5 linked regions of the Homo sapiens genome follow. The protein of the gene in region 4 purifies or fractionates together with the protein of the main gene of each other region. This does not show direct contact. Each region holds a gene or a part of one and is shown on either strand. Other genes may lie near its edges. The genes, in order: ITIH3, KCTD18, METTL5, NTF3 and CA1.

Region 1 (6,445 bases), on a different chromosome or scaffold from region 4:
AATAAACAATGAATAATTTTTTAGTGTAGGTATGTCTGTTATGGGTTGAATAGCGTACTCCTAAAGTTCAACCTTATTTGGTGATAGGGTCTACAAAATAAGGTCATGAGTATGGGCCCTAATCCAATATGATTGATGTCCTTATTAAAAGGGGAGTTGGACACAGACATCCAGAGGGAAGACATGTGCAGACACAGGGAGAAGACAGCCATTGATAAGCCATGGAGAAAAGGAAAGAGGCCTAGAAAGATCTGCCCTCATAGCCCTCAGAAGGAACCAACCCACCGCCACATGGATCTGGGATGTCCGGGCTCTGGAACTGGGAGACAATACGTTTCTCTCATTGAAGCCACTTGGTACTTTGGTATGGCAGCCGCCATACACTAATACAATGTCCTGTGCAATATTTGGGGCATACTTACACTACAAAAATTCATTATTTATCAGAAATTCATATTGAACCAGATGTCCTGTGTTTGCTCTGATAATCCTGTTGAAGAAACGGGCCTGTTGTGTAGCCCAAGGACAAAATCAGAATCTTTACTGATGGGTAAGAGATAGTCAGAGGTGGATTTTGACCCAAGACGAAGCTCTTCCTAATAACTAGAACTGTCACCTTATGGAGCAGCTGTCTGAGGAAGTAGTGAGCTCCTTATGCCCGGAAGTGTGCAAGACAAGGCATACCTGCAACTGCAAATCGGCATCAGAGTCCTCATAAATGCGCCGGGCAAACCCATGGTTCTCCAGGGCCATGTTCTCCAGGAAGTTATAATTCAGATTGTTGCCAAAGCCCAGGTTATACAAGGGGAACTTGCCCCCGATGGCATTCCGCACATTCTCTTGGATTTTTTCGGGTCTGCTCTCACCTGTTGGAGAAGGGGGTGTTCACAGTCCAGCCCCAGCCCTGGGGATGGTCTAGACCAGCTCTGTCTGGGGAGACCGGACTCCTGCACATGCAGAGTTGCTGGAGTCACGACCATGAGCCCTTGTGGGGCAGGTGGTGGAGAGCCCTGGCAGAGGGAGGCAGGACCCTGCCCTTGAGGGGCTCCCAGACCACAGGGAACCCAGGGAAGAGCTGCCCCAGGTTTTCCAATGAGCCAGCTACAGAGCCAGGAGCAGCAGCCAAGCACTCCAGCCCTAGCTCAAAACCATGCCCGTGCTCCTCACCAACATTGGCATCCCCATCAGTCAGCATGATGACAATGGAGGTGCTCCTCTCTGGGATTCTGTGCTCCTCTCGGGCCTTGTTCAGCATACTGATGCCCCTCAGCAGCCCGTCATTGATGTTGGTCACTGGGACACAGACAGACAGCACCGTGGGAGGGTGTCCTCAGGGTGCCAGTGTGCAGACAGGCTGGAGCGGAGGAGGCCGGGACAGCCGGCCCCACTCATGTGCCCAAGGACCCTATCTGCCAGCCCATGGTGGTACTCAGCAAACAATGAATGAACCACCACATGAACAAACAAACAAACAACTTCCACTTTCAAATGGGGATGAAAGGCACATGGTGAAGACGAAAAGCACATGGTGATTGTGAAAGCCCTTTGGCAGAGTTGGATGGACTCCCAGTACCTCTTGCTGGGAGGAGAGGGGAGCAGTGTAGACATCGTGCCATTTTCCATATGAAACAGGGCCAAGAAGAAGGGTTCTCTGTGGCCTTATCTTGCTGGGACTTGTGAGATACCAGGATCATGGATTAGAAACAGAAAGAATGGGTTTCCCTGGACCACGGAGAAGACAGCCGATATTCTGTCTTCAAGCCTGAGGACCATCCACTCCCACCTCTACCCCAGCTCAGATCTGAAGAGGGCCTGAGACCAGCAGAGTCCCTAAGAGGGGGGTTGCAGGCTGCTCAGGGACAGAGGGAGGCACCGCTAGGAGGTGTGTGGGCTCCAGCTCCGCTCTTACTTCCTTTATCCTCCATGCTCTTCACAAACGTCCTGGCCTCCTGGAGGTTCTCGGGCGTGGCCTGGACTAAGTGCTCTTTCCATGTGGACACATCTCCACTGAACAGGATGAAATTCAGATAGTCTTCCTCTTGCATATCTTCCAGGATTCTGAGAAGGGCCTCCTTTGTCTGGAGGAGAGACAAAGAGCTGGGAGAAGCCGCAGCAGAGAGTGAGGTCCCTTCTCAGCTCAGCAGGCGGTGCAGCCCACGCCATCTGCACCAGCGAGCCCTGCCTGAGGCTTGCCACAGAAGCGGGCAGAGGCCGTGAGCCTTCTCTTATCCTGTCCCCTTTCTCCTCATTCACCACAAAGATCAGCTTTTTCCAGTTAAAAAAAAAAATCTCTTCCACCCCCTACTACCCCGAGCCCTGGCTGTGCCACTGGTGCTGATTACCTGCTCTAATTTCCGACCAGCCATGGAGCCGCTGATGTCAATCACAAAGGCCACGTTCTTAGGCACCACTGGAAGGCCTTGAGGTGCAAAGAAGTGCACGAAGTAGCCATTGACTATCTGGAAAGTGGGGAGAGGGACGGAGGCCGGTGTCCTTTTAGCAACACCACATTGACTATTCTTGCAGGTAGAAGCCAGACATTTACCAGCCCAAGAAAAAGACGTTCCTATCCCACCCTCTAGGGGGTGCTGCACCAGGCTCTAGGCCATCAGCTGTCCCACATCCTGCAGGAAAACAGCCTTGGGCTGAGGACCCAGGGTGATGGCACTAGATCCAGCTGCAGCCCCCGCCCGACCAGCCCTCGCCCCACCCTGATGATGAATCAGCCAGCCCGGGTACCTGCACGTTGCCAGGAGATTCTCTGTTCACGTCATAGGTGATAGTGAAATCTCCATTGAGGAGGGAGTCTGTACAGGTTGGGCATGAACGCTGTTGGTCTAAGCTGGGCTTGAAGGACACATGGCCCTAAGGGATGGAGATGAAAGACCTTGCTCAGCTCGGCCAGGGCCTGCCCACTGGGAGACCTCAGCCCTTAGCTGAGGGAGCAGAGGTGCAGCCTCACAGGGAGGAGCCCTTGGCAGGGCAGAGGCTAGCAAGAGCTGGAGGCCTGGGCAGCCCTGCCCGCCGGTGGCGTGCTCTGCAGCTCCCAGGACTCACTGGAAGGCACTGTTTACCACGCTCCGGCCTTTCTGAGCACCGCTTTTCCCCTTGGAGATCAGGGCTCCTGGCTGGGCACAGGCCTTGGCTGATTCAGCTTCCAGCTCCCTTTTTCTTGGCCTCACACACCCATTAGCCCAGGCTACCTTGGAGCTCAGCACTGAGAAGCTACTTAGGGAAGGGGTAGCTTCCCATTAAAAGGAATTTCTTGTAGGTTTGGAATGTTGGTGTGTGGGTGCCAAGAGGAGGGGAGGGAGAAAGGAGGAGAAAGGGGAGGAGGAGGGTCCCGGGGCAGGATGTGGCCCTGCAGAAGCCAGCAGTCCTCTGAGTGTGTGCTCCTCGGGCCTCGCCCTGGAAGTCCTGGATGATTGGTTTGTTGTTTATACAAACATTTATTCACCCACTGTCCACTGCCATTAAGGCCCCTGGAACAGCTGGGAGCCTTGGGGACTGGAGTCAACCACCTAGCACCAAGAATGAAGTTCTCTTTAGTCTTTCACCTCTCATTGTGGAGTCAGTAGATCTAAATGACTCCCTTGGGCTTCAGCCTCGGGACCTGTAAAACAGGGAAGATAAGCCCTGCCCTGTCCATTTCCCAAGGGGGAACGGGACCAGGCTTTGTAAATGGCTCCTCTGGCAGGTCATTGTCAGCAGCCCCTGCCCTCAGCATCCTCACTCCCAACCCCAGTGGGCAAGGAGGAAGGTGATAGTTGCAGATTGATCCCCAGCCCCACCCCAACACATGCATGCTTGCAGCAGCTAAGCCCTAGGCTGCAGGCTTGTTCTGCTGGAGTCAGTATTCCTGTCCCCTGCCCCACCAGGTCTGAGAGGCATCTACATCACCTTTTTCCCTGAGAAGGACTTGGTGAGGGCGCTTCCCAGGAGGTCGTTGGTGATGAAAGAGGCCTCAGCATCCAGCATGCTGATTCCCTGAGGCTCGAAGATGTCTACCTCGATCTGAAATGGCCAAAGTAAGGAAATGTCACTCAGTGACCTCAGAGGCCAGTTCCCAGAACAAGGCCAATGGGAATGAGATGGGTCTGTGGTGATGCAGGGACCCTCTAGGACAGTGCTGAGGGCCAAGCCTGGTGTCTCCCACTGCGAAAGTGACCACAGGGGCTTGGAGGAGAGTATGCTGATCGGGAGGTGTTACCACCGCCTGCCATATGCGCCCGAAATTCCACCACTGATGCTTTTCCTTTGGCTTTCAGCTTTGAGGTAGGAAAAATGCCCATGTGCCCAGTGAGAAGCCTTACAGAGGCACTTGCTGGTGTTGCTCTTGAGGGCCCAGCACCGAATCTGCATCTGTGGAGTCCATCCCAGCCTCTTCCCCTTGGCCCCAGATGCTTTTGGCCAGAACCATTGAATTCCTCCAGCCTTCCCAGCCAAGGATGGGGGATGCCGTGAGGCAGAACTTTTGTTTTTGACCCCTGTCTGAGACTGCCCCATGGGCGGGTTCCTGCACCCCGCTGCCGTCCCCCCAGGTCTGCAGGGGCGGTTGATTACCTCAAAGTGTTTGACCAGTTGCTTAGGCTGGACCTTGAGGTACATCTCGTACTTGCCCTTGTGCCTCTTCAGCAGCTCCTCGTAGGTTAGCTCGAAGGTGACTTTGCTGCCTGCAGCCACGTTGACCGAGACTGTGAACTTCTCCAACTTCCTCCCAGAGGCCCTGACCAGGGTGCGAGATGGTGACTCCCTCAAAGACTGCAGGAGCCCACCCTTCCTCGGCCCTCGGCCCCAGGCCCAGCCCTTTGGCGAGGGAGATCCCTAACCATTCTGAGCCTCACTTGCCTCAGCCTCAACGTGGGATAATGGCAAAATTATGGGCACATTTTGCTATACCAATAATAATAGCTGTTGTTGTTGTTTGTAGCCCTGAAGGCCCTTGGATCCCAGACATTCTCCCCAAGGCCTGGGAGTCCATACTTACTTGACCAAGCCGGCCGTCTTGCCCTGGGACACAGCCTTTTCATACTGCTTCTTGGCAACTTCCTTCTCCTTGACATTCCCAGGGTAGGTAACACCGTCGATGGTCCTGCAGGGAAAGAGAGTTGGGGGTAGGGAGATCACACTGGGCCAGACCCCCTGTTCCCGAGCCCAGAGCCAGCAGCCATGGTGGTACCCACAAGGTGAAGTTGGTGATGAAGGCCGTCTTGGGCAGCTCCACATCAAAGGAAACCTCCTTGGCCGTGTCTGCACGGTTGACGGCTCTCATGGTGACAACATTGTGAGCAAAACGGGAGGTCACCTTGGAGTTGATTTTGGTACTGTAGACCTCGATGCCATTGGCCACCTTTGGGGAGGTGGGTGGAGAATCAGCCAGACTGGGACACTGGAGAAGCAGGTTTGCAACCCAGCCACCTCCCTTGCAAACCCTTGGAGGCTCTGAGGCCCCTGCCCGGCACGCAACCCTCATCCTCCAGGTCTTCTACACTGGAAGACTTGGTGGCGTCTCCAGTCTCCATGTTCTGGTGGCCACCATTATTCAGATGCTTGTCCTGCCTCCTTAATTCTGCGATCCGTTTACACACCACTGCAGCCAGTGAGAGCTTGCCCTTTCCCGTCCAGTCACCCTGAGCTCCAGCTATGCGTGGGACACTGGCTCTGGAGCATCTGCCCCTGGCTCTTCCTGCTCATCCTCCACACCTCACACTCCCTCAAGCACACAGCCCAGCCCACCTCCTGGGTCTTTAGGTAATTGCCTCATTCTGTCTCCCAAAGAGGAACTGATTTCCTGTGCCAAGGGAAGTCTCCAAACACCCTCTTTCCAATAGGGGTGTTGAATTTTGAGAGGCTCTAGGGAGGTGTTCCAGCCCCCTCCCCCTAGGGATATAAAGATGCTTCGTGAGGGTGTGGCAGGGACCGCTTCACAGAGCCAGGTACCAGCAAGTGCTAAGGAAGTGTCTGCGGAAGGAAGGGATGCCTGTGAGGGGCCCTCTTGGGCTACATCCTGCGAGGTTGGAGGGGTCGTCACTCTGTGGTGCTCTTTCCCAGGAGTCCTGCGCTGTTGGAGGCTGCCAGGGCAGAGGGCCGTAAGCTGTTTGCCAGCTGTGAGGAGTCAGCTGTTATAGCCTACACCTTCAGCAGTTGGGGAACCAGCTCCATCCTGCCCTGCCCCACTCGGTCCCACCCCCTGGTGAAAGTTCTTACCCCTTCCGGGAGGCTCCGTTTCTGAAAAAACAAAAACAAACACAAACACAGGAATCAGGCCAAGGCCAACACCAAGGCCGCATGGCCTGGGAGGCTCTGGGCTGAGACCAGGGGTTCAGTGGTGCCCTGCCCCCCACACACCTGAGTGGCCCCCAGACATAGGACCCTCCAGAGCCACATGTCAGAGTAGGAAAAACTCTGAATAGATGGGGAAACTGAGGTCCAGAGAGGGGCAGGT
Region 2 (5,250 bases), on a different chromosome or scaffold from region 4:
GAAATTCAAACTGCCCATAGACAATCATATAAAAGTTGGGAAAATGAGAAATGGAGCCTTAACCATTGAAAGTCTCCCCTCCTCCATTCCTAGCTCACACAATTCCAGGAACAGAATCCTCAACATAAACCTAAGCTTCCCCTCTGCTGCATTAAGAAAGTGTCACTTCTTTGCGTCGAATGGGTTGAAAGCTTTGGGAGATGAACGGGAAATTTCAAGTCCACCACTTTCATCAATTTCCCTTGTTCTTCCCGTTCTCAGTCCGCACTCCCAAGGCACGGGCAGCTTCGCCGGGAAGCGGCTTGAGGGAGTTGGCCTGCCTCGTGGCCGTGGGGGAGGGCAGGCAAGGCGCGGTGGCGCACAGCGGAGTCCTCTTCAGCTTTATCACCCGCTGGGGTGTAGGCTTCTTGTCGGAGAGTAGCACCTTAGCTGGAGGTAAGTGCGTGCCTCCATTTTCAGCGCTCGCAGCCCCAGGGGAAGCCTGAGGATGCCCAGGTGCCCCCGTGCCCACCAGGGCCGTGGCTCTGGAAGGTGCAGAGCGCTGAGCTGCCTTTCTGCGGCTACCACTTTGAAACCGGTTTGCTGTCGCCCCAGCCGACGTCTGGATGGCACTGGCTGGAGACACCGTGACTGAGGCCGAGTTCTTGACTTTAATTTGGGTACTTGTGGAAGGGCCCAAAAATCTAACTGGCTTAGGACCAGTCTTATAGTTCACACTTTCGTCCGCTTCATTGAACGTTATCAGTCGCCTAGAAATACAGAAGCGTGTCATTTTCCACATGTATAGTTTTAGTAACTCATGAAAACATCTCCCAAGTTTACCTTCAGCATTAACAGAAAGGTTTTGGTCAAGAATTAAAGAGTCAAGAGGTTTATGGGCACCTACCTCATCTCTCATCTCCCACCAAGGTCAGTAAGCAAGTTTACAAAAGATTGGTCTTAATTTGAATACGAATTATGTAAACTCACACACATAATATTAATACTAGCAAATTAAAATTTGGCACTTTACATAAGAATACAATATATCACCCTGTTCCCAAGTATCATGATGTGACCTACGGGATAACCAGAAATATCACAAATTGTTTTTCCCAGAACTGCAGTTTAAAGAGATTTAGTAAAGAAAAAAAAAGATTTCACAATCAAATAAATATTAGAAATATTGCTTGATATAGTTTGGCTGCATGTCCCCCCCGAAGCTCATGTTGAAATGTGATCCCCAATGTTGGAGGTGGAGCCTGACAGAGGTGTTTGGGTCATGGGGGAGGATCCCTCATGAATGGCTTTGTGCCCTCTCCCATGGTAATGAGTGAGTTCTCACTCTATTCGTTCACGTGGGAGCTGGCTGTTTAAAAGCCTGGCATCTCTTGCTGTCTCTCACCGTGTGACATATCTGCTTCCCTTCACCTTCTGCCATGATTGTAAGCTTCCTGAGGCCTCACCAGAAGCATATGCTGGCCCTAACCTTCTTGTACAGACTGCAGAACCATGAGTCAAAATAAACCTCTTTTCTTTATAAATTACCCAGCCTGATAGTCCTTTATAGCAATGCAAAACTAATAAACTGCTGCATATCTTTTTTTCTTCTTGAAGCTTTAAAATTCATGTTAACATATTAAAGATTATGAAAGGCCTATACTAAAGATATCTGTATTTCCCAATCATTCTATAGTGAAACCTTTGATGGCCAGTAAAATTTGCATTCTTTGGAACCCATTTTGGGGACTGCTAGAACAGTCATGGACAAACCTTCAAAGATTCCAGAACTGAGTTTACCATTCATTATAAAAAGCCTACGGGGGAACATTTTTTTAAATGACCTTAAAACCGTCAAACAATCATTGTCAAAACCTTGCCTGCTCCTTCAGCTTCACTTCCTGAGGACCACCCCAAGCATGAAAGGTGACTGCAATCCTCTCACTCTGCTCTCTTGCAAGTCTGCATAGCATCAATGTGTCATTAGAGGCGATTACAACTTATTCAACTCCCATTCTTGGAAATGGGATCATAATAACGTGGTTATTTGAAAATTGCCATCTGTAGCAAAGAGTGCAAATATAATATATTCAACCCTAAATCCCTACTGAACATTTTCCCTGGTCACCAGATGGCTCCTTGGGACCTTACAAGTGCTTCTCAGTCATCATCATCGTTATCCTGTTGATGCATCAAAAATAATGCTTCGTAAACTTGTAGAGGAAAGATAACTAACACAGAGGAGGGTCTCCGTAAACCACTCCTGCCTGCCTGCTATGTTTTCCATCTACATCTTCCACCAGACTCCACACTGAGGTTTCTCAACCTCGGCACTATTACCATTTTGGTCACATAATTCTTTGTTCTGGGGGGCTGCCCTGTGCACTGTAGGATGTTTAGCAGCACCCTTGGCCTCTACCTTCTAAATGCCAGTAGCAACTCTCACCCCACAGTGTGTCAACTAAAAATGTTGCCAAACATTGTCAAATATCCCCTGGAAGGCAAAATCACCCCTCGTTGAGAACCACTGCTCTTGACTCAAATATATTTGCTAACTGTAGGCTCAAAAGGTAAAATAAATGATAATAAAATTATGGCTTTTAAGAAATAAGATCTGTTTTGACAAGTGATGGTTAACTACTAAAAACTGAATAAGCATCTCCGCATTTCAGTGAAAGACCCAGAGGGCAAATGTAAGAAAGTAGTCTGAAATTCCATACGGGCATTCAATTAAATTGTAGAACATGTGATCAAGAAATCAGAACATCTGAAGGCCATGAATAAAACCCAGACACTGTAAAAAAAATGTGATTTTAAATGTATTTAAAACACAGTGAAAGACACAGCTGTGGAGTGAATTTAATGCTAATAATTTCATGGAACACAGGAAAATACCATTTAATAAAAGTGCTATTTGTGGCAATAGGAAACAGAAAGGAACTCAGAATAAGCCACAAGAAATTTCAAGTATTAAGTCTAAATAGATTTTTTTTTTACTATTGCCAGTAAAGCCTGGGATTCCACTTCTGTGGAGCAAAAATATTTACCACAGCATGCCCACTGTGTCCACTAGTAATTTTAGAATCACTCTCTCAATAAGAACATGTTACACATGCAGTTACAAAGAATTATAGCCACTTTTTACATAGTTTTGGTAACTTTATATTTATCAAGATCTATATTTTGATGGTAAGACAGAATATTCAAATCGGTGATTAATAAGCTTAGTAAGGTCAAGAATTATTATTCATTTTCCCTTCACAAAGGCAGTAAAAATGTCAGCGATTAAAAAAACAAAACAAATAAACAACACAGCATAGATAACCTCTTTCGAATTGGAGCCATGTGACGCAGGCTTCCAAGTAAAGGCCGTTCTTCTAGAGTCCAACACTCTATCAGCTCATGAGGCACCCGCCAGTAGCTAACACCTGGAAGGTAAAAAGACATAATTAAGACAGCTACCATCCACTGCAAAATGCTGAGCAACACTGTTTCGCCTAAGACCTGCCAGAGTCTGAGGTTCATGCCTCCCGTTTGGCAAAGAGAGGTGTGCACAACATGAACAGGAAGCGCTCACACGAGGAGCTAGGGCCAGGGAGCAACACAGCTCACGACCTGGGTCAGGAAGAGCTGGCCACCAGCTTTGCCACTGATTAGCTGAGAAGATTCAGCAGGTTATGATGCATACTCAGGGCAGCTGAGAGTGAGGGCTCAGGCTCCAGCAAAGCCTGTGTGGGTCTCAATCTCCATCTCTCACTCACTATTCATGTCACCTTGGGAAAGTTACTTTTCTGGGCCTGAATTTTCTCAGCTGTGAAATGATGACAATAATAGTATGTACCTTGAAGGACCACTGTGATGATTAAATGAGTTAATAAATGCAAAGTGCTTAGAACAGGGTCTAGCACAGACTAAGCACTCAAAAACTGTCAAGTACCTTTATTCCCAGTAGTCGTAGGGAGCAGTATAAGTATTGTATAGGGGGTGGGTTGTAACACTTGCCTTGTCTACTTCACTGGGTTGCTGTAACATCAAATCAGGGGAACTTTGTGAACTACTCTGAAAATGGCAACCACTGTACAAATATGAGACATCACCACCCGATAACCACCTTTTCCAACAAGAATCTGAGCTAGTGAGTTAGGCAAAAATGCCATTCAAATTCATTTTAATTTTTAAATCTGTTATGTTTTTTATTAAGAGCTGAAAAATGTATTTATTCTTGAAGCCTCGAAAACATTATGCTAAGTGAAAAACACCAAACACAATAGGTCACATTTGTATTGTTCCATTTGTAGAGCTATCAAGAGTAGGTAAATCCATTGAGACACAAAGCAGACTGCTGGTTGCCAGGGGCTGTGGGAGACAGTGGAGTGGGGAGTGACCGCTTAGGGGTTCCTTTTGGGGTGATGAAATGTTTAGAACTGGAGAGAGGTAATGATTGCACAACATTGTGAATGTAGTAAATACCAATGAAATGTATGCTTTAGTTAATTCTGTTATGTGAATTTCCATCTCAATTTTTTTTAGAAAAGAAGCATAAATATATACACATGAAAAAAGCTCAAGGAATTATGTTGAATAAAAATTGCTTGGAGTAATCTAAGTCCCAATAATGGATTTGGTGTTGTCTTCTTATTAAACTTCTGGTAACAATAACAATTTAGCAAGCTGGGCATATAAATCATTATAATGATAGACATATCTGATACTCAAATAACTCTATGATCCTCATTTTAAAACAATTAACTTTCTGGAACTGCTTGATCACACTCCAAAACCTACACATACTATAAAAACATTCCCAAATCCGGTCCATTAAGTTTGCTTTTTCTAAAAGTCAGATTTATTAAGATATAATTTATGTAAAATAAAATTCACCCTTTTCAGGTACACATTTCAATGAGTTTTGACAAATGGATATAGTTATGTATCCATAGTCATAATCTGTAGACCACTTCTATCACCCCAAAAATTTCCTCATACCCCTTAGCAATCAATGTCCCCTCCATATCCTTAGTTTTGCCTTTTCTGAAATGTCATATAAATGGGATCATACAAAATGCAACCTTTTGTGTCTGGCTTCTTTAGCATGATGCTTTAAGATTCATCCATGTTGCTGTATGTAGCAATGATCATTTCTTTTATCAGTGAGTAGTATTCCACTGTATGGATACACCACAATTTGTTTAAAAACTTTCTTTTTTTTTCCTGCCTATAAAGTAATTCACATCCCTTGTACAATACCTGGAAAATATAGAAAAGTATATA
Region 3 (6,445 bases), on a different chromosome or scaffold from region 4:
CCCAGAGTTTAATAATGGTACTAAGTACCCATTTTCCTCCTAAGCTCTAAAACGAAAACCAGTTTTTCATATTTCTTCCTTCTAAAGAATAATGTAGATTCTCCAAACTCTTTACTACTGATCTATTTTAGAGGGATGGCAGTGAGTCTACTACTCCTGTATGTCACAGCTTTCAAGTTTTAATGTGCAATCAAATCACCTGGGGATCTTGTTGAAATGCAGATTCTAGTTCAGTAGGTCTGGGTGGAGTCTGAAATTCTTTTTTTTTTTTTTTTTTAAGACGGAGTCTCGCTCTGTTGCTCAGGCTGGAGTGCAGTGGCGCGATCTGGGCTCACTGCAAGCTCCACCTCCCGGGTTCATGCCATTCTCCTGCCTCAGCCTCCCAAGTAGCTGGGATTACAGGTGCCTGCCACCACACCCAGCTAATTTTTTGGTATTTTTTAGTAGAGACAGGGTTTCACTATGTTAGCCAGGATGGTCTTGATCTCCTGACCTCAAGATCTGCCCACCTCAGCCTCCCAAAGTGTTGGGATTACAGGTGTCAGCCACCACGCCCGGCCTGAAATTCTTTATTTCTAACAAGGAAATCTCAGGGATTTTAATGCTGATGGTCTGAGGGCCACATTTGGAGGAACAAGCCTCTGGCTTGGTATAGTACTGGGACTGTTCTAAGGTGTTCCGTACTGCATATAATACCTAAAACTGGCCGGGCGCGGTGGCTCACACCTCTAATCCCAGCACTTTGGGAGGCCAAGGCGGGCGGATGACCTGAGGTGAAGAGTTCAAGACCAGCCTGACCAACATTGTGAAACCTCATCTCTACTAAAAATAATAATAATAAAAAAAACAGCTGGACGTGGTGGTGCGCCTGTAGTCCCAGCTAGTTGGGGAGACTGAGGCAGGAGAAGAATCCCTTGAACCCAGGAGGTGGAGGTTGCAGTGAGCCAAGATCGTGCTGCTGCACTCCAGCCTGGGCAACAGAGGGAGACTCCATCTCAAACAACAAAAAAACACCCCTACTGAAAATAACAGGAAGACGAACAGAAGTGTATATTACATTATTATTATGAACAGTAATATATCTAGCTGTATGTTTAACACTACAGTGGCAATTCATTGTTAGTTTATTATTGTGAAAAAACATGTTCCCTTATTGCACTCTTATTTCAGGCTTAGATTATAATTAGCTTCTAGTTATATGCTTTTCCTGTTTTGATGTTTGTGACTATTACCCAATTTAGTAATAAAAATGTATCAAACATGATTTACTCATAGATATTTAGAAGAAAAAGATAAATGTTATTTGATTCCAGGGGTAATTAGAGAATGAAATTAGAGGCTGGGCTCAGTGGCTCACACCTGTAATCCCAGCACTTTGGGAGGCCGAGGCTGGAGGATCACTGAGGTCAGGAGTTCAAGACCAGCCCTGCCAACGTGGTGAAACCCTGTCTCTACTAAAGATTAAAAAATTAGCCGGGCGTGGTAGTGCATGCCTGTAGTCCCAACTATTTGGGAGACTGAGGCAAGAGCATCGCTTGAACCCGGGAGGTGGAGGTTGCCACTGCACTCCAGCCTGGGTAACAGAGCAAGGCTTTGTCTCAAAAAAAAAAAAAGAAAAAAGAAAATGAAATTAGATTATCTAGGAATAATGTGGTGGCATTTTCTATGAATGAATTTCAAACCAAGATCTGACCAACTCCAAGCCCACTTTTTTTTTTTTTTTTGAGATGGAATCTCACTCTGTTGCTTAGGCTAGAGAGCAGTGGCGCGATCTCAGCTCACTGCAAGCTCCGCCTCCCAGGTTCACACCATTCTTCTGCCTCAGCCTCCTGAATAGCTGGGACTACAGGTGCCTGCCACCACACCTGGCTAATTTTTTTGTATTTTTAGTAGAGACGGGGTTTCACCATGTTAGCCAGGATAGTCTCAATTTCCTGACCTCGTGATCCGCCTGCCTCAGCCTCCCAAAGTGCTGGGATTACAGGCGTGAGCTACCGCGCCCGGCCCACTTTTTTTTTTCATTTGTTTGTTTTTGTTTTTTTGAGACTGAGTCTCCTCTGTCATCCAGGCTGAAGAACAGTGGTGCGATCTCGGCTCACTGCAACCTCTGCCTCTGGGACTCAAGCGATTCTCCCGCCTCAGTCTCCCAAGTAGCTGAGATTACACGTGTGCGCCACCATGCCTGGCTAATTTTTTATATTTTTAGTAGAGATGGGGTTTCACCATGTTGGCCAGGCTGGTCTTGAGCTCCAAACCTCAGGTGATCTGCCCACCTTGGCCTCCCAAAGTGCTAGGATTACAGGCGTGAGCCACCACACCTGGCCCCCAGCCCATGTTTTTAGCCATTGTGCTGCTATACAGTGTTCTGCCTGAGTCTGGAGTGACCAAATACCTGAGTGCTATTAGAAATTTTCAGTAAATCGCATAAATTAGGACAGTCTCAGGCTAAGTGTTCATTCTGCTTTTACTCCATTTCCAATCTATTACCAATCATGCACATTTTGCCACACTGTAAAGCATAGTTTATCTTCTCAGCACCTGCATGAAAATTTTGGTTGGGCGAATACATGTTGGCCCTTTTGGATATTAGGATTGAGATTTGTCTTACCTGCTATAATATCTATCTTGATTTTCCATTCTGCAGCTTTCTTTTGAACATGCTGAACATAAATAATATGTTGTTATGAGCTGATTTTTAAATAATGATTTTTTAAAATTGCTTTTTACTAATACTTGAGATTGAGTTTTTAAGCTTAAAATTTCATTAGAATCTAGACCCTTATAAAAATTTCAATTGAATGGATAGTATTCTGAAAATAATAAATCAATTTCAATACATTTAACAATCTGAACCAAATCACACAATAAATCCAAGTGATAGAAAGCTACTCATGCACCACATAATGCCATTTGGGGTTATCTAGGGACTGCATATATTTTGGTAGTCCCATAAAATTATAAATGGAGCTGAAAAATTGCTATTGCCTAATGATGTAGCTATCTTGACATCACAGCACAACACATTACCTTCTTGGTGTTTATATATGTTTAGATCAAAAGAATACCATTGTGTTACAATTGCCTGTAGTATTCAATACAGTAATAGGTTGACAGGTTTGTAGCCTAGGAACAACAGACTATAACCACAGAGCCTCGGTGGTCCACTCTATGTTTGCACAATGATGAAATCACCTCAGAATGCATTAGTCAGAACATATCCCTGTTGTTAAAGGATGCATGACTATTTCAGAAATCTATCAAAGATGTGTAATGTTCTCATATGGTTTCTGTAGCATTATTTCATTGATATATACAGCTAGCTAGCCTAGAAACCATTTGGCAGAGATATAGGTACATGGGGAATTCAGTTCATGCAGTAAAACTGAGTTTTATAAAATTCATGTTATGCCAAGACTATACTTTCAGGGATCATTTCTATAGTTCGTTACTAGAGAAGTTTCTCCGAAAGTGTAGAGCACTGTATCATGAAAATGGCCATACTACCCAAGGTAATTTATAGATTCAATGCTATCACCATCAAGCGACCACTGACTTTCTTCACAGAATTGGAAAAAACTACTTTAAATTTCATATGGAACCAAAAGAGCCCACATAGCCAAGACAATCCTAAGCAAAAAGAACAAAGCTGGAAGCACCATGCTACCTGACTTCAAACTATACTACAAAGCTACAGTAACCAAAATAGCATGGTACTGGTACCAAAACAGATATATAGACCAATGGAACAGAACAGAGGCCTCAGAAATAACACCACACATCTACAACCATCTGATCTTTGACAAACCTGACAAAAACAAGCAATGGGAAAAGGATTCCCTATTTAATAAATGGTGCTGGGAAAACTGGCTAGCCATATGCAGAAAACTGAAACTGGATCCGTTCCTTACACCTTACATGAAAATTAACTCAAGATGGATTAAAAATCTAAATGTAAGACCTAAAAACTCTAGAAGAAAACCTAGGCAATACCATTCAGGACATAGGCATGGGCAAAGATTTCATGACCAAAACACCAAAAGCAATGGCAACAAAGCCAAAATTGATAAATGGGATCTAATTAAACTAAAGAGCTTCTGCACAGCAAAAGAAACTATCATGAAAGTGAACAGGCAGCCTACAGAATGGGAGAACATTTTTGCAATCTATCCATCTGACAAAGGGCTAATATCCAGAATCTATAAACAACTGAAACAAATTTACAAGAAAAAAAAACCCATCAAAAAAGTGGGCAAAAGATATGAACAGACACTTCCCAAAAGAAGACATTTATGCAGCCAACAGACATATGAAAAAATGCTCATCATCAGTGGTCATCAGAGAAATGCAAATCAAAACCACAATGAGATACCATCTCATACCAGTTAGAATGGCAATCATTAAAAAGTCAGGAAACAACAGATGCTGGAGAGGATGTGGAGAAATAGGAATGCTTTTACACTGTTAGGAGTGTAAATTAGTTCAACCATTGTGGAAGACAGTGTGGAGATTCTTCAACGATCTAGAACTAGAAATACCATTTGACCCAGCCATCCCATGACTGGGTATATACCCAAAGGGTTATAAATCATGCTGCTATAAAGACACATGCACATGTATGTTTACTGCGGCACTATTCACAATAGCAAAGACTTGGAACCAACTCAAATGTCCATCGATAATAGACTGGATAAAGAAAATGTGGCACATATACACCATGGAATACTATGCAGCCATAAAAAAGGATGAGTTCATGGGATGAAGCTGGAAACCATCATTCTCAGCAAACTATCACAAGGACAGAAAACCAAACACCGCATGTTCTCACTCATAAGTGGGAGTTGAACAACGAGAACACATGGACACAGGGAGGGGAACATAACACACGGGGGCCTGTTGGGGGGTGGGGGGCTGGCGGAGAGATAGCATTAGGAGAAATACCTAATGTAAATGACAAGTTGATGGGTGCAGCAAACCAACATGGCACATGTCTACGTATGTAACCTGCATGTTGTGCACATGTACCCTAGAACTTAAAGTATAATTAAAAAAAAAATTCATGTTATGCCAAGCTGTGCAGAAAAGAGTTCACAGCAGGCCTGGCTGCTTATCCTTAGAAAGGCCTGCTTAGTTTGGCCCTTGTCTGGAGACTGGGAACTTAGATTTTGGGAAGCCTCCCACTCCCTACTCCCTTAATAATAGTGACTGACTGTGCCTAACACTGTTTATGCTGAACACCTGTTTTCCTACTGGGAGTCTAGAATTTGGGTATGTGTCAGAAAGGGAATTGCCTACATGATCAGTCCCTAATAAAAGCCCTGGGCACTGAGTCTCTAATGAGCTTCCCTGGTTGGCAATGTTTCACATGTGTTATCAATAATTCATGCTGGGAAAATTAATTGTGTCCTGTGTTATTCTACTGGCAGAAGACTCCAGAAGCCTGGCCCTGGTTTACCCCATTCTCTGCCTAATGCACCTTTCTCCTTGCTGATTTTGCTCTATATCCTTTCACTGTAATACATCATAGCCATGAATAAGACTAGATGCTGAGTCCTGTGAGATTTCCTAGTGAATCATCAAACCTGAGGGTGTTCTTGGGGACACAGGTTTGGATACCAATGTTTACTGGTGTTTGCTTTCATATATAGTGAGTGAGGATTTATTTACTAGCTATGTTGTGTCCTGTTGCTTGCCTACATGTACCACTACTTATTATTAGCAGTATAGTTCTTTTTAGCTGTTATATTTTATGCTTTTTAAAAGGTTATCACATTACCATGTAACTAGAATGTATTATTTCCAACTGGGTTCTTACGTACTGTATTTACATGAATTAAGTATTTTTCCTACAAAAGCACTTTAAAATCTTTGAATACATGTATGATTTAAATAATAATAGCTAACACATAGCAATTACACATGTCAGACACTGATCTAAGTGCTTTGTAAATATTAACTCATGTAATCCTCACAATTCTTATGAAGTACAATTGGTACTCTCAGTCCCTTACACTTAGAGTACAGGTGAGGATAGTATAGATGACAAAAGCTCAATTACCTTGATGATGAAACTCAATTACCTTGACCAAGAAAACAGCTGGGAGGCAGCAGAACTTGGATCTGAACCCAGAGAATCTGGTCTGGCTTCAGAATCTCTGTTCCTAACTATTGTGTTATACTGACACTAAAAAAATGTACTGCCCCTTCCCCCAGTTTCCTGGACTACAACTTATACACCTCTCCATGTGTTATATGCTGCAAAAGTAAGAATAGGTGATTTCTGAACTCAGATCTGTTTAGCTCCAGGCTCAAGTGTTCTGAAAACCTGGCCTTACTGCCTCCCTTAAGTACATCAGGCCACACCGGGACAATGGGACAAAAGGGATCAACTAAGACTTACTCAGAGAAACCAAAACATACAGTAATCCTAGTTACAACACACTTTTCT
Region 4 (6,445 bases):
AAATCAGTGGAGGAAGAAGGAATGAGCCTTTAGTCACAATCTTCAAACAGGGCAACATCCACCCCAAGAACCTGTTTGGCTTCTCTATTTCTGGTACTGCCCAGAGAATGGTGTGCAGTGGCAAATCCTCAGCTGGAGGGCTCTACAGCTGCTCTGCTCTGCATCAAACACAGCCTGGGGACCTCAGTCTTTAGCAGTGACCCCTGCCCCCCAACCTCCCAGCAAGAAACCTACCTTAACTTTGGCCCCAGTCTAAATGGTGTGAGTTCCCTAGCCTATCAAAGAAAGCCATCTTCCAAATTCTAAAGATACCTCATGCTCTCCATTCATATTCTTTTTCACTTTGATTCTGTGCAATTCCAGGACTCAAGAATGCTGGGACCTACCACCTCTCGTGGGCGTGTGGATCAAAACCAGATGTCCAGCTCCAATTTTATAGAGTTTACAAGGAGGCAATTGTGGCTTAAATCAATATCCGTATTCTGTAAGGGCAGGTTCCCTTGTCAACAGAACAAGAAGTAAAGGGAGAGGGCCAATGGAGGCTGAGACAGATCTGACACATGCTTGCCAGCAGGTGGCTAGAAAACCTAAACATTTGTCTTGCACATGACAAGGAGGCTTCCGGGGGCAGGGAGCAGGTTACCCTATGGGGTGACCAACTTTGCAGAAGAAGATGGACCCAGCTCCCATCTGGATGACATCACAGACATAAAAAACAGAATCTGACTAGCAGGTGATGGGCTTGGGATGCCACAGACTTCAGGCTGGAAAGCCAAGAACATCAGCATACCCCTTAACCTCACATAACCTCAGTACCCCCATCTGTAAATGAGATTATTTTGAGTACTGAGATAATGCCATGTAATAGCTGTAAAAATGCCTGGCACCCAGTAAGTACTCTAATATTAACTGTCATCATCATCATCATCCATCATCTTAAAGATGGATGCTTACCTTAGTCAGAGACATTGCCACTGAAAGACATTCACGTGGAAGCTGAATGATTAGCATCAGACCTACCAGAAAGCCAAATCCCACCCCTTTCAGCTCTGCACACCCTGTGTAGGCTAAGCCAATGTTTAGAGCATTCTTGGCCAAAAGGAAACACTCTGGCAAATTTTTTGCACGCTTTTCTGCCTTTGACTCAGCCATTCCCCAAAGATAAAAACAGGAGCTCGTTAAGGGCGTGCCAGGGTGCACTCCAAGTGAGGTAATTAGCACTGATTAGGTAGGAGGATGTGGCTACTGTGGAATCCTACAGTGACAGGGCTGGAATGGGACTGGGAGATCTTCTAATTCAAGCCCTTCATTTACAGATGGCAAAGTCATGTCCTACAGAGAATGTCCAGGGTCACACAGTAGCAGCTAATTAGTGACAGAGCCCAGTCACTGAACCTGGTCCTTCACTTCTAAGTCAGGCAGCTACCTGCTGCCTCAGGCTACTGAAGGTCACCCTGGCCTGGGCTCTTGTTAGCTACTGTTTCCTCCAAAATCTCTGGCCTTGAATGTTGGAGAACCTTAAATCTTCCAACAAATCTCTGACTGAACAAACCCACAAAAAAAAATGGGGCTCAACAAATGTCTTCTCTGGAGATGTTACTAAAAAGTGAGCAATCACAACAGACCACACGAAATTTCACGTCAAAATCTGTTCTGTTTCAATGACATCACGGTCAGTCATAGGTTTGTCCTGTGAGGACAACCAAAGCTGCGGCAAGCTCTCCGTAGTTCCCAATTAATCCTATTTGAGAAGGACCATGGCACAGATGGGGACATGAACAGCAAATGCATTCTGACCATGTGGGGGTGTGTGCAACCTCTAGCCTCTCAGTATTTTTAGGTAAAACAAAAGACTGAGTTATGGAAAACTATTAACAACAACAAAAAATACTTTAACGCTCTGGGGCCATCTACATGTGTTCTCACAGGTTCTAAAATGAGTCCTCTGAAAGACTTTTTTTTTTTTTGTCCAGCCTCAATCTTGTTAGAAATCCATCCAGGCAAGAATGAGGTAATATCTACACTGGCCTCATACTTCAAGGTTCAACATGCCCATATAAAAATGATCTGAAGGAAGGTGTCCCCAACTTTTTTCTCAGGCTGTCCCACCTGTAAGAAGCAATCCAATGACAATCCAATCTGAGCCAAGCATCCAGATACCTGCCACCCATAACATAAGCTCTACAAATGCCCCATCTACCCAGGGCATCTCCTACGCTCACGTGTCCCCCAGCACGCACGCACGCACATCCTGTGCTCTCCTCTTACTCCACACATGCCTGTCCATGCACAAAGTACATCCACAGACCTTATCAGCAGCACCACACGGGGCTTAGGCTTGTCTCCAGTAGAAGATTTGGTCCTTTTCCAACAAACTCATTTTTAAATAAAACTAAATCTAAAACCCTAGCAACGGTCATTAGTTCAACATCCCCAACGCCAGAAACTGCCTGCCTCGTTAAAGAGTAAAACAGCCGCGGGTGAGGCTTGAGGCAGGGTGGTGGGCTCTAAAGATCTTCTGTGTCAGCCTGCATCCCCTCTCTCACTTCCAGGCAATGCACAGACTTGCATTCCCTCCAGTTGGGGTGGGAGTGCTGTAACTGCTCAGGAAAAGGTCTGGAGAAGCTTGTAGCAGAAGCCGCCTGCTCCGTCAGGCATCCTGAATGTAGGGAAAGAGGAGAGGCCTGAACATCTGATACATCTGGGAGTGGAAGTGAAGACATGGGAAATGTTATGTAATTAAACTCTGCTGGCCTGTCCCGCCTGGGGAATGTGAGACCCATCAGCAGTGACCTCTTCCAATCAACTTAATTGGCCCAATCTCGCCAAGAAAAGCAACAGAATTAGTTTAGTGCCTCTTGGAAATAGCTTAGCTCCTGACTATTTATGGCCACTGAACTCAAGGATGGGAGCCTGACTCTGAGCCAGGAGTTGACAGCATGTACTGACTTCTGGGAGGAATCGGAGGTTTCAGTGTGTTTCCATGCCCCTCTACGACTCCATCTTCATCTCTGGGGAAAGTGGCTGTACCCAACTTGCTGCACTGGGCACAAAGAATTTCAAAGACCCAAAGCCCAGGCTTTCCTCTTACCAGGCAGGCTAGACTTTGCTCTTCTTTTATTCAAATGGTGCCTATGTCAAGGGCAATTATTATTTTTGCTGTTCTCCACGTCACATTTCTTTTGGTGCTGTGGTCTGCATAGCTGATGTTAAAAAATAAAGAAATGTCTGTCTCTGATCATTAATAACATTGATTCTTAGACTACCTTTCCTCTGAATAGCTCAAAGATCTTAAAGATTTCCATCATCTATAATCTAGGTTTGGCTGCCTCCAGCTTCTGGATGAGTAAACTGAGGCAGTTATAAAAAGTTTTATTTACACAATGAGTGAGCAGTAGAGATGCTGTGGGCATCATGATTACTGATTAAGTTGCATTGTAAAGAGAAAGGGGTCCAGATCCTATTTTCACAATGACCTACATACGTGCTAGCACCTGTATTTAATTACATTTCATCTTTGTATGGCTGTATACAACTAAACACATCAAGTTTTGATGGGGGAAAAGAGGAGTGAACTTTCCTTCTCCTTGAGTCATTATATTGCCCCTTTACAAAAAGAGAAACAGAAGAGTTATAGAGATTAAAAATGTCCCCAAAGTCACACTTTTCCCAAGTGGTAGAACTGGACTAGAACTAAGACATTCCCAATCCAGTCTTGCACTTCACCACCCTGCTCTCAGAAATATCTGCCCCGGATCTTCTGACCAATAGTCAAGCCCTATATAAACTATCTCTTACACAGATGAGTTTCCCTCTCAAAAATAAGGTAGACCCTTAAAATGGCACAGCTGTAACTTCATGAATTCAAAAATGTCATGAGTCAAATAAAGTCCTCCCAAACATATGCCCAACGGTGGTCAGAACCTAATCAAATGGGGATCCCCATCGTCTGCTCCAGACAGGCAGATGTGTGCATCACAAAAGCACAGCCTTCACTCTGTTCCTACCCAGTTGCCTCACCAGCCATCTCAGGGTATGGACCCGATCAACGACACCTTTGTCTCATTCCCCAAAGTCTACGGCCCTTCTTTTGTGTACACCTTTTTTCGCTAAAGATGCACATCTGAGTATCCAAGACAATTTTTATCCTTCCCCAGACACACAGAATTCCTGCAAAAACACATACTGGCACCCCCTTCACAAGAGCCAGAATATCCACCCCTCCTATCCACCTCGCTAGTTTTCTCCCAGTTACGTTACTCCAGGCCAAAGTGCATGTGCACGCACCTGCATGCATACCCACCCCCCCAACACACACTCAGGTTAGCTTTACACTCGTAGCCCAGAAAACATCAAAGATGAACAAACACTCCCAGTCCATCTCTTCCTTGATCATGACTTCACCATTCTCCAGCTCCACATAACAGGTCTCATTCCAGCTATGAAGGAGGCTCTGTGTACTCTTAGAAACTCAATCCTTAGAGGGATCTGGACCTGCATTCTGACCTGAAGTGCAGCACCCTCCAATTCCCAGCCCACACCCCACACAAGAAACAACAACACCGTCCAGCTCCCTTCCCAATACACAAAAGTCTACATCATCCCTCTCTTTATGCCCCACTTTTTACAAAACCAGAGATATATTTCAAGTCAGCTTCCCTTTGGCCCCCAAGATCCATAAACATCTCTAGAAACTGAATTATAGACCTTGAAGAAACCTCAACAAGCGTCGAGCTCTGTCTATTTCTGGCAAAATTGCATCAGTTTTACTGAGCCTGGAGAAGGAATTTTTCCAGGGCAGTGTGCCATGCCCCAGTACCCAGCAATGGGCTGAGCATCCAGTAGGCACTCCATTAGCTTTAATTGATTATCAATATGAACTGGTGATAGTGAATTCTCCTATTACATAAGAAACCCATTACAAAACATTATACAACATGCATCCCTGACACCAGGCACAGATAGTGCATTCCTCTACTTACTTCAGTCTTATGCACACATCTCTTCCTGTTCCCACCCAGTGCCAATGCACAAGGACTTTTCCCCTTAAATGTACATCCCTCATTCTAAGCCTCCTCCAATTCTCTTCTCTCTGGGGAGGAAGGAGGGGGGAGGCAAACACCAACACCAACCCGGTGTCCTTCCCTGCAAATGCTTTGTCTTTCCATAAAGAGGATCTGAGCTCACACTTTTCTACCCCCTACATGCCCCAGTGCCATTCCAGCCAAATTTCCCAGTGCACCCTCATGAAGTTCAAACCCCGTGCTCCTCAGATAATCTTCCCCCACCCCCCACACACATCCCTTTGGTAATCCTCAGGCGCCCAACCTTCCACATGCATCCACCTTTCCCTCACACACACAGCCGCCCTCCTACACCACACCCACTCCATGTGTTTGTGCAGGCATGCACAAGCCATCTGTCTTCAACAGGCTGCACCTCTCCTCCTGCTCTGACACCCTTCATAGGCACAGATTTCGCATTAGCTACACCTATGTTCCTGCAAGCTCTTGTCTCCCGCTAAGCACACAGATGCCCATCCGACAGACTCCCCAGAAACACACACCTCCCAGGCACCAAAGAGGGATAGGACTCCAGCTCTTTTGCCACCTTCCCCTACACACACACACACACACACACACACACACACACTTTGGAAAAACATCCCCATCCCTCCCTGACCACTCACTCAATGGTCACAATCTCACTCCATAGATAAGCATATCCCATTCACACACAACCAAACCCTCTAAGTCCAGCTACACTCCAGTCCTCACCAACACAAAATCCCACACACTCTCCCTAGGGGAAATACCCCAGACTTTCTATCTCCCTTCAACACTGTCTACCGGAGCCTGCATTATTTTCCAACCCCCTTACCTCCTAACACGATACCTAAGTCTGTGTGTTTGCGCCCAAGGCAGAGGGGGTTGGAGTTTATCCTCCACATTCTACCTTTCAGCTTTCTTTGTGTGACATGTCAAAAAGGAATTGAGGGCAGGCGGGAGGCAGGCTGAGTACGCTGGAGAACTTCTGAGTGTTGTGAAAACAGGACCTCTGGAAAAGTCTCCTCTATGTTACAACTTTCTCCCATCCTGACGTTTAGGACAGAGCGCTTCCATGTTCTCCTCGTTCGCTGTTTTGCGGGGTAGGAGCGGGCACCTCTTTATTTAAAAAGCAGGTCGCTCAGTGCACTCCATAATCAGCTGAGTTACAAACATCAGGCTCCAGGAGAAACACCCACCCCTTCCAGGCTCCCCTCCCCTCTCAGCAGGCCCTCGCCCCCGCCTCTTCACACACATAAACAAGTCCACAGGCGCACAGTCTCCCGAGCTCTCTAGCTCTGAGCCCGGCGCTCCCGGGAGCAACCTCCATTCGGACTCAGAACCTGCCGCCCGCCGCCAGAGGCCGAGGCCAGACGATCTTTTCGGTGTTTCCCCCACCG
Region 5 (6,445 bases), on a different chromosome or scaffold from region 4:
CAAGCACAAAAGACTTAGAATGGGTGTCATATTTCTCGAGCACTATTTTTTAAATTTTCCCAGTAGACTGTAAGAAAAAAATATCAGAAGGGTCTTTCAGCTCACCTGATCGGTTATCGTTGTCCTCAAAATTTACATGGAAGGAATGCCCCACATTGATAATTTCTTTGGCTGTGGCTGGGTTGTAGGAGACACTAATAGGTTTCAGAGAGGTGTCATGTTTGGTTTCACTGGTTTTAATATCAACAGGGGACTGGTTATTTCCATTGGCAATGGGATACAGCTTGCTCCATTGTTCAGGACCTACCAGGACAAACACGTGTAAAATCAATGTCTTATCAAATGCTTGATTCCAAGTTTTAGGAGTATAGTTACCTGTTTGCTTATTAGATTAGGGTTTATTTCAGTGTATTAAATGATATTCTCTTAAGATTAATAGAAATTCTGTGTTTGAAGATGTCCCTTTTCTTTCTTTCTTTCCTTCTTTTTCTTTCTTTCTTTCTTTCTTTCTTTCTTTCTTTCTTTCTTTCTTTCTTTCCTTCTTTCTCTCTCTCTCTTTCTTTCTCTCTCTTTTTTTTTTTTTTTTTGACAGAGTCTTGCTCTGTCACCCAGGCTGGAGTGCAGTGATGCGCTCTTGGCTCACTGCAACCTCTGCCTCCCAAGCTCAAGCGATTCTCATGCGTGAGCTTCCCAAGTAGCTGGGATTACAGGAGCATGCCACCATGCCTGGCCAATTTTTTTGTATTTTTAGTAGAGATGGGGTTTCATCATGTTGTCCAGGCTTGTCTCGAACTCCTGACTTCAAGTGATCCACCTGCCTTGGTCTCCCAAAGTGCTGGGATTACAAGCATGAGCCACTGCACCCGGCCCCTTTTCTATATTGTACTATAAAATAGTGTATTTGTCAATACTACTAATATAGATCTATACTCATAGTCTATAGAATCAGACCATACATATTTTATTATTAGCAATAGATTTCTAATACAAGCTTAACTCATTTTATTGCGCTTCACTTTATTGTTCTTTGCAGATATTGCATTTTTTACAAACTGAAGATTTGTAGCAACCTTGCATCAAGCAAGCTTATTAGGGGCATATTTTCAACAGCATGTGTTTATTTCACGTCTCTGTGTCACATTTTGGTAATTCTCACAATATTTTAAACTTTTTAATTGTTCATATATCTATCATGGAGATCTTTGATGTTACTATTATAATAGTGTTGTGGCACCATAAACCATGTCCAAGTAAGATGATGAACTTAATCTGTAAATGTTGTGTGTGTTTTAACTACTTTACTGACTGGCTATTCCCCATCTATCTCCCTCTCTGTAAGTCTGCCTATTCCCTGAGACAAGAATATTGAAATTAATCTGTTTAATAACCCTACAATGACCTGTAAGTACTCCAGTGAGAGGAAGAGTCACATGTTTCTCACTTTAAATCAAAAGCTAGAAATGATTAAGCTCAGTGAAGAAGGCATGTCAAGAGTTGAGACAGGCCAAAAACTAGACCTCTTGTGCCAGTTAGTCAAGCCGTGAATGCAAAAGAAAAGTTCTTGGAGAAAATTAAAGGTGCTACACCAGTGCACACACAAATGATAAGAAAGCAAAGCAGCATTATTGCTGATATGGAGAAAGTTTGCATAGTCTGGATAGAAGATCAAAAACCAACAACCACATTCCCTTAAGCCGAATCCTAATGAGAGCAAGGCTATAGCTCTTTTTAATTCTGTGAAGCCTGAGAAAGGCAAAGAAGCTGCAGAAGAAAAGTTAGAAGCTAGTCGAGGTTGGTTTATGAGATTTAAAGAAAGATGCCATCTCCATAACATGAAAGTGTGAGGTGATGTGGCAAGTGCTGATACAGAAGCCGCAGACAGTTATACAGAAGATCTAGCTAAGATAACCAATGAAGGTGACTACACTAAACAACAGATTTTCAGAGCAGACAAAACAGCCTTCTTTTGGAAGGAGATAGCATCTAGGACTTTCATAGCTAGAGAGGAGAAGTCAATGCATGGTTTCAAAGTTTTAAAAACAGCCTGACTCTTTTGTTAGGGTCAAATGCAACTGTTGACTTTAAGTTGAAGCCAACACTCATTTAACATTCTGAAAATCCTAGGACCCTTAAGAATTATACTCAATCTACTCTGCCTGTGCTCTGTAAAAGGAACAACAAAGCCTGAATGACAGCACATCTATTTACAGCCTGGTTTACTGACTATTTTCAAGCCCACTGTTGAGCTCTACTCCTCAGTAAAAGAAGATTCCTTTCAAAATATCACTGCTCATTGACAGTGCACCTGGTCACCCAGGAGCTCTGATGGAGATGTACAAGGAGATTGATGTTATGCTTATGCCTGCTAACACAGCATCTATTCTGCAGTCTATGGATCAAGGAGTAATTTCAACTTTCAAATCTTATTTAAGAATACACTTTGTAAGGCTGTAGTTCCCATAGATAATAATTTTTTTTATGATGGATCTGAGTAAAGGAAATGGAAGTTGTCTGGAAAGGATTCACCATTCTGCATGAACATTTGTAATTCATGGGAGAAGGTCAAGTTATCAACATTAACAGGAGTTTGAAAGAAGTTAATTCCAAAGTCATGGATAACTTTGAGCCTTCCCAACCTTCAGCAACCACTATCCTGATCAGTCAGCAGTCATCCACACTGAGGCAAGACCCTCCACCATCAAAAAGATTAATACTTGGCTGGGCGTGGTGGCTCATGCCTGTAATCCCAGCACGTTGGGAGGCCAAGGAGGGCAGATCATGAGGTTGGGAGATCAAGACCATCCTGGCTAACACGGTGGAACCCCATCTCTACTAAAAATACAAAAAAATTAGCTAGGCGTGGTGGTGGGCACCTGTAGTCCCAGCTACTCGGGAGGCTGAGGCAGGAGAATCACTTGAACCTGGGAGGCAGAGATTGCAGTGAGCCTAGATCATGCCATTGCACTCTAGCTGGGCGACAGAGAGGACTCTGTGTCAAAGAAAAAAAAATTAATACTTCTGAAGGCTCAGGTGATCACTAGCATACTTTAGCAATAAAGTATTTTTAATTAAGGTATGTAGATTTTTTAAACATGCTATTGCACACTTAATAGACAACAGCATAGTGTAAACATAACTTGTAAATGCCATGGAAAACTCCAAATTTTATGTGACTTGCTTTCTTGTGATATTTGCTTAATGATAGGGGTCTGAAACTGAACCTTCAGTATCTCTGAGGTATGCCTGTATATATATATATCAAACATATTTTGTAGTCAGCCATGCCCCAAAAGACAATGCTAAGAATACATGCAAAGATAGTATAATTATTTAAAGCAGACAGTTCAACAATTAACCTATAGCTGTACAATTATTTTAAATACTTAATATCTTTTCTGTTGGAAATGGGAACAAGTTATCATTTTGATCTATATAAACAGGAGAACTCTTACCATTTTTGTCATCATATCCCCAGTCTGGACTTGCCATTATCTTCTACTGAGTTTTCTTTTTCTGAAAACAAAAATAATACCTGGAATAACTAACTGCAACTGTGCATGCAGGAGATGCCTTAAATCCCTGCTTGGGCGTTTTTATAGAAACTTACTTGCTTTTAATAGGCCATTATTTCATCATCTCTGCTTATCAGGAAGTACACATATCTAAAAAAAAGGTGTTGTAAAAAATTCTACAAGGGCTATGTTAGTTTCAATTGCTTAATTTTCTTATATTGTAAAAGAGAATTATCAGATCCTAGATTTTATAAAGCCAAGTCCTGTTTCACTCATGTTAGTAGAAGATATGGCTTAATATTATAATATGTAATTCTTTAGATTTTCTAAATGAAAAATACTTTGTACACTCAAGATTTCCAACTCTACCTTTGTTAGTTACCTAAGCAATATATGCAAAAGTAATTTATCAGGAAAATAATTTGTGTGTTTACAGGCTGATCTGAACTAGTATCTTAATGTTAATTTAAAATCAGATAATTAAATTACTAATCATTTGTAATATATGTTATTTATAATGATACATTTTATAGATATACAGGGTAAGAATAAAGTCCATTTTGGAGCAATATTGGAATTCATAAATGGAGAAGATTTTATTAATATTAAAGTTAAATATAACACAATATTTATTTTATACATCAAATAGGTCTACAAGAATAAAGGTCTTATTTTTTAATAGCTCTATATAATTTATAAACCAGTTTCTTATTATTTTATTTCACCATCACACATACATACAAATGCTATATAGTAAGAATTAGCATTTGTAATTGAGAGATGTTGAGGTACTTTGCCACAACTGGCAACAAGCCAAGAAGCCAAGACTTCAGCCTCCTAATCCAGTTCCCTTCTTCACTGTACCTCCACCAAATGCCACACTAATTCCCCTCCTATGCTCACAATACTCTTAAGTGCAAGTTAAGCCTGGACCAAGATGAGAACTGATGCCAACTGAATGATGAGAAGGTACACAGGACTTTTCAGGATGGCAAAGAAAACTGATTAGGATGTGCCAGACTCTGGCCAGTTCTACATGTTCAAAGCTCTAAACATGCTCAAAGAAAAGAAAACCGGAAAAATAAGCTACCATAGTGATGCTTTTTTCATGCCATGACAGTCATTCCTCCTTTCACATGGTAAGGATTGTCTGAGCTGCTGCAACCCCTGAAAGAAGAGAGGGATCAGGAGCAATTTTCACTAAGGCTGACTGGAGACACGTTGTTTGCTCCTTTGCAGTTAGTGATGGTTCGTTGTCTCATATGCAGAGTGGGCTGTGGTCATGAACATTCACAGAGTGGGAAGAGGCCCAAGCTCCCATTCTATGGCTTTAGTAAGCATAAGAAGATATTGCTTAAAAGAGAATTCTTTTTTTTTTTCCAAAGTACTGTTTATTGAAGGCCCAACAGGGATCAACTGCTGTGCTAAAAACTTTACGTACATTAACTTATTTAATTCTTATTATAACAAAATTGGGCATTAAAATCTGTGTTTTAGGCTGAGGTGGGAGGATCTCTTGCACCTAGGAGGTCCAGACCAGCTTGGGCCACATAGTGATACTCTGTTTCTGGAAAAAGAAAAAAATTGTGTTTTACATTAAAAAAATATTGAGGCTTACAGAGGTGAAGACACCTCCTCAGAGTTACAAAACTTGCAAGTGGCTGCTTATATCCCATAAGCCTAGGGTTTAAACCTAGATCTGTGTAATTCCAAAGCTAATACATTTGCTTAGCCTTCCACTGTCAACAATTGTCCACTGACCTCCAGTTGATTCTATTTTCTGGAGGATTGGATTAGGTGATGTAGCTTGGTTTGGCTCAAGATGACCAAGAGTCAGGCTTCATCCTTGGGCTTACTTCACTCCGGAAGCTCATGGAGTGACAGGAGCAGGCTACCCCCTGCCAGGTAATTTGCCTCCTAATATTGTATACTTTGTAAAAAGCAACTTTAGCTTGAACTACTCTATTAATCAACAAATTTGAAAAACAGCAACCCCCTTTCATTACACGACTATGTGATGATTTGTCACATGAATGCTTTAACATCCATATGGAATGGCAATTTATTTAAAGTTTTAGGCACAGAATGACACTGGACCCTAACTATTATCACCTTTTATTTCATTATGTACCCAGGGTGTGTTATTGTACTGGCAGAAAATTATATAGAGAAAGGATATAAAGTTTAATGAGCCTTTATAAGTCCAAACACCCTTCCCATTTACCTTTATCCTTCTTTTTCTGCTTACAAATTTTGCTTCTCTCAGCTGAATCTATGCCAAATTCAAGATGTTTAGTTTTGTATTCACTTCACTTTCACCAACAGTTTCCTCCCAGTATACTTTTCCAGGATGATCTTTGGGTTACTTTTGCCTACCAAGAAGGAGTTTAATCTACACAGACTCTGCTCTTCTAAACTAAAAGTATATATATATATATATACTTTTAAATTTTATATATATAAAATTTAAATTTATATATATAATTATATATTATATACTGTATATTATATACTGTATATAATATATAATTATATATTATACAGTATATAATATAATTATATTATATACAGTATATAATATATAATTATATATTATATACAGTATATAATATATAATTATATATTATATACAGTATATAATATAATTATATATTATACAGTATATAATATATAATTTGAATTTATACATATATTATGTATATTAGATTATTACATTTATTTATTAACACCAATTAATTTCTAAATTAAATGGTACTAAATTTAGGGTACTAAATATTTTTTAGTACCCTAAAATGTTTTTCAAAAAAGCATTTCTTCAGTGTTTTTAAGTATCTATTTAAATCAGTTTTAAATTATATTTAAGAGCCTTAGTATTTCTTATTTTAACTTTTGTTCTTCTAGTTCCTTTGATACTTTTCATCTAATTTTTATTT

Evidence for each region.
Region 1: the proteins of NTF3 (region 4) and ITIH3 purify together in Homo sapiens (affinity purification with mass spectrometry, with the first as the bait; one large-scale study listed by BioGRID). This does not show direct contact.
Region 2: the proteins of NTF3 (region 4) and KCTD18 purify together in Homo sapiens (affinity purification with mass spectrometry; one large-scale study listed by BioGRID and IntAct). This does not show direct contact.
Region 3: the proteins of NTF3 (region 4) and METTL5 purify together in Homo sapiens (affinity purification with mass spectrometry; one large-scale study listed by BioGRID and IntAct). This does not show direct contact.
Region 5: the proteins of NTF3 (region 4) and CA1 purify together in Homo sapiens (affinity purification with mass spectrometry; one large-scale study listed by BioGRID and IntAct). This does not show direct contact.

Annotation. Positions count from the first base shown.
Region 1 is NC_000003.12:52,795,386-52,801,830, reverse strand, and holds part of ITIH3 (inter-alpha-trypsin inhibitor heavy chain H3 isoform 4 preproprotein), read right to left. Parts: intron 6,229-6,445; coding exon 6,208-6,228; intron 5,351-6,207; coding exon 5,184-5,350; intron 5,093-5,183; coding exon 4,988-5,092; intron 4,727-4,987; coding exon 4,564-4,726; intron 4,015-4,563; coding exon 3,901-4,014; intron 2,866-3,900; coding exon 2,740-2,865; intron 2,460-2,739; coding exon 2,343-2,459; intron 2,079-2,342; coding exon 1,910-2,078; intron 1,294-1,909; coding exon 1,168-1,293; intron 867-1,167; coding exon 685-866; intron 1-684. UniProt on the Homo sapiens protein: May act as a carrier of hyaluronan in serum or as a binding protein between hyaluronan and other matrix protein, including those on cell surfaces in tissues to regulate the localization, synthesis and degradation of hyaluronan which are essential to cells undergoing biological processes.
Region 2 is NC_000002.12:200,489,868-200,495,117, forward strand, and holds part of KCTD18 (BTB/POZ domain-containing protein KCTD18), read right to left. Parts: intron 3,408-5,250; coding exon 3,305-3,407; intron 750-3,304; coding exon 233-749; 3' UTR 1-232.
Region 3 is NC_000002.12:169,812,869-169,819,313, forward strand, and holds part of METTL5 (rRNA N(6)-adenosine-methyltransferase METTL5), read right to left. Parts: intron 3,511-6,445; exon of another isoform or gene 3,411-3,510; intron 2,661-3,410; coding exon 2,609-2,660; intron 1-2,608. UniProt on the Homo sapiens protein: Catalytic subunit of a heterodimer with TRMT112, which specifically methylates the 6th position of adenine in position 1832 of 18S rRNA.
Region 4 is NC_000012.12:5,433,680-5,440,124, reverse strand, and holds part of NTF3 (neurotrophin-3 isoform 1 preproprotein), read right to left. Parts: intron 1-6,445. UniProt on the Homo sapiens protein: Seems to promote the survival of visceral and proprioceptive sensory neurons.
Region 5 is NC_000008.11:85,338,147-85,344,591, forward strand, and holds part of CA1 (carbonic anhydrase 1), read right to left. Parts: intron 4,680-6,445; exon of another isoform or gene 4,603-4,679; intron 3,569-4,602; exon of another isoform or gene 3,514-3,568; 5' UTR 3,490-3,513; coding exon 3,453-3,489; intron 304-3,452; coding exon 106-303; intron 1-105. UniProt on the Homo sapiens protein: Catalyzes the reversible hydration of carbon dioxide. Can hydrate cyanamide to urea.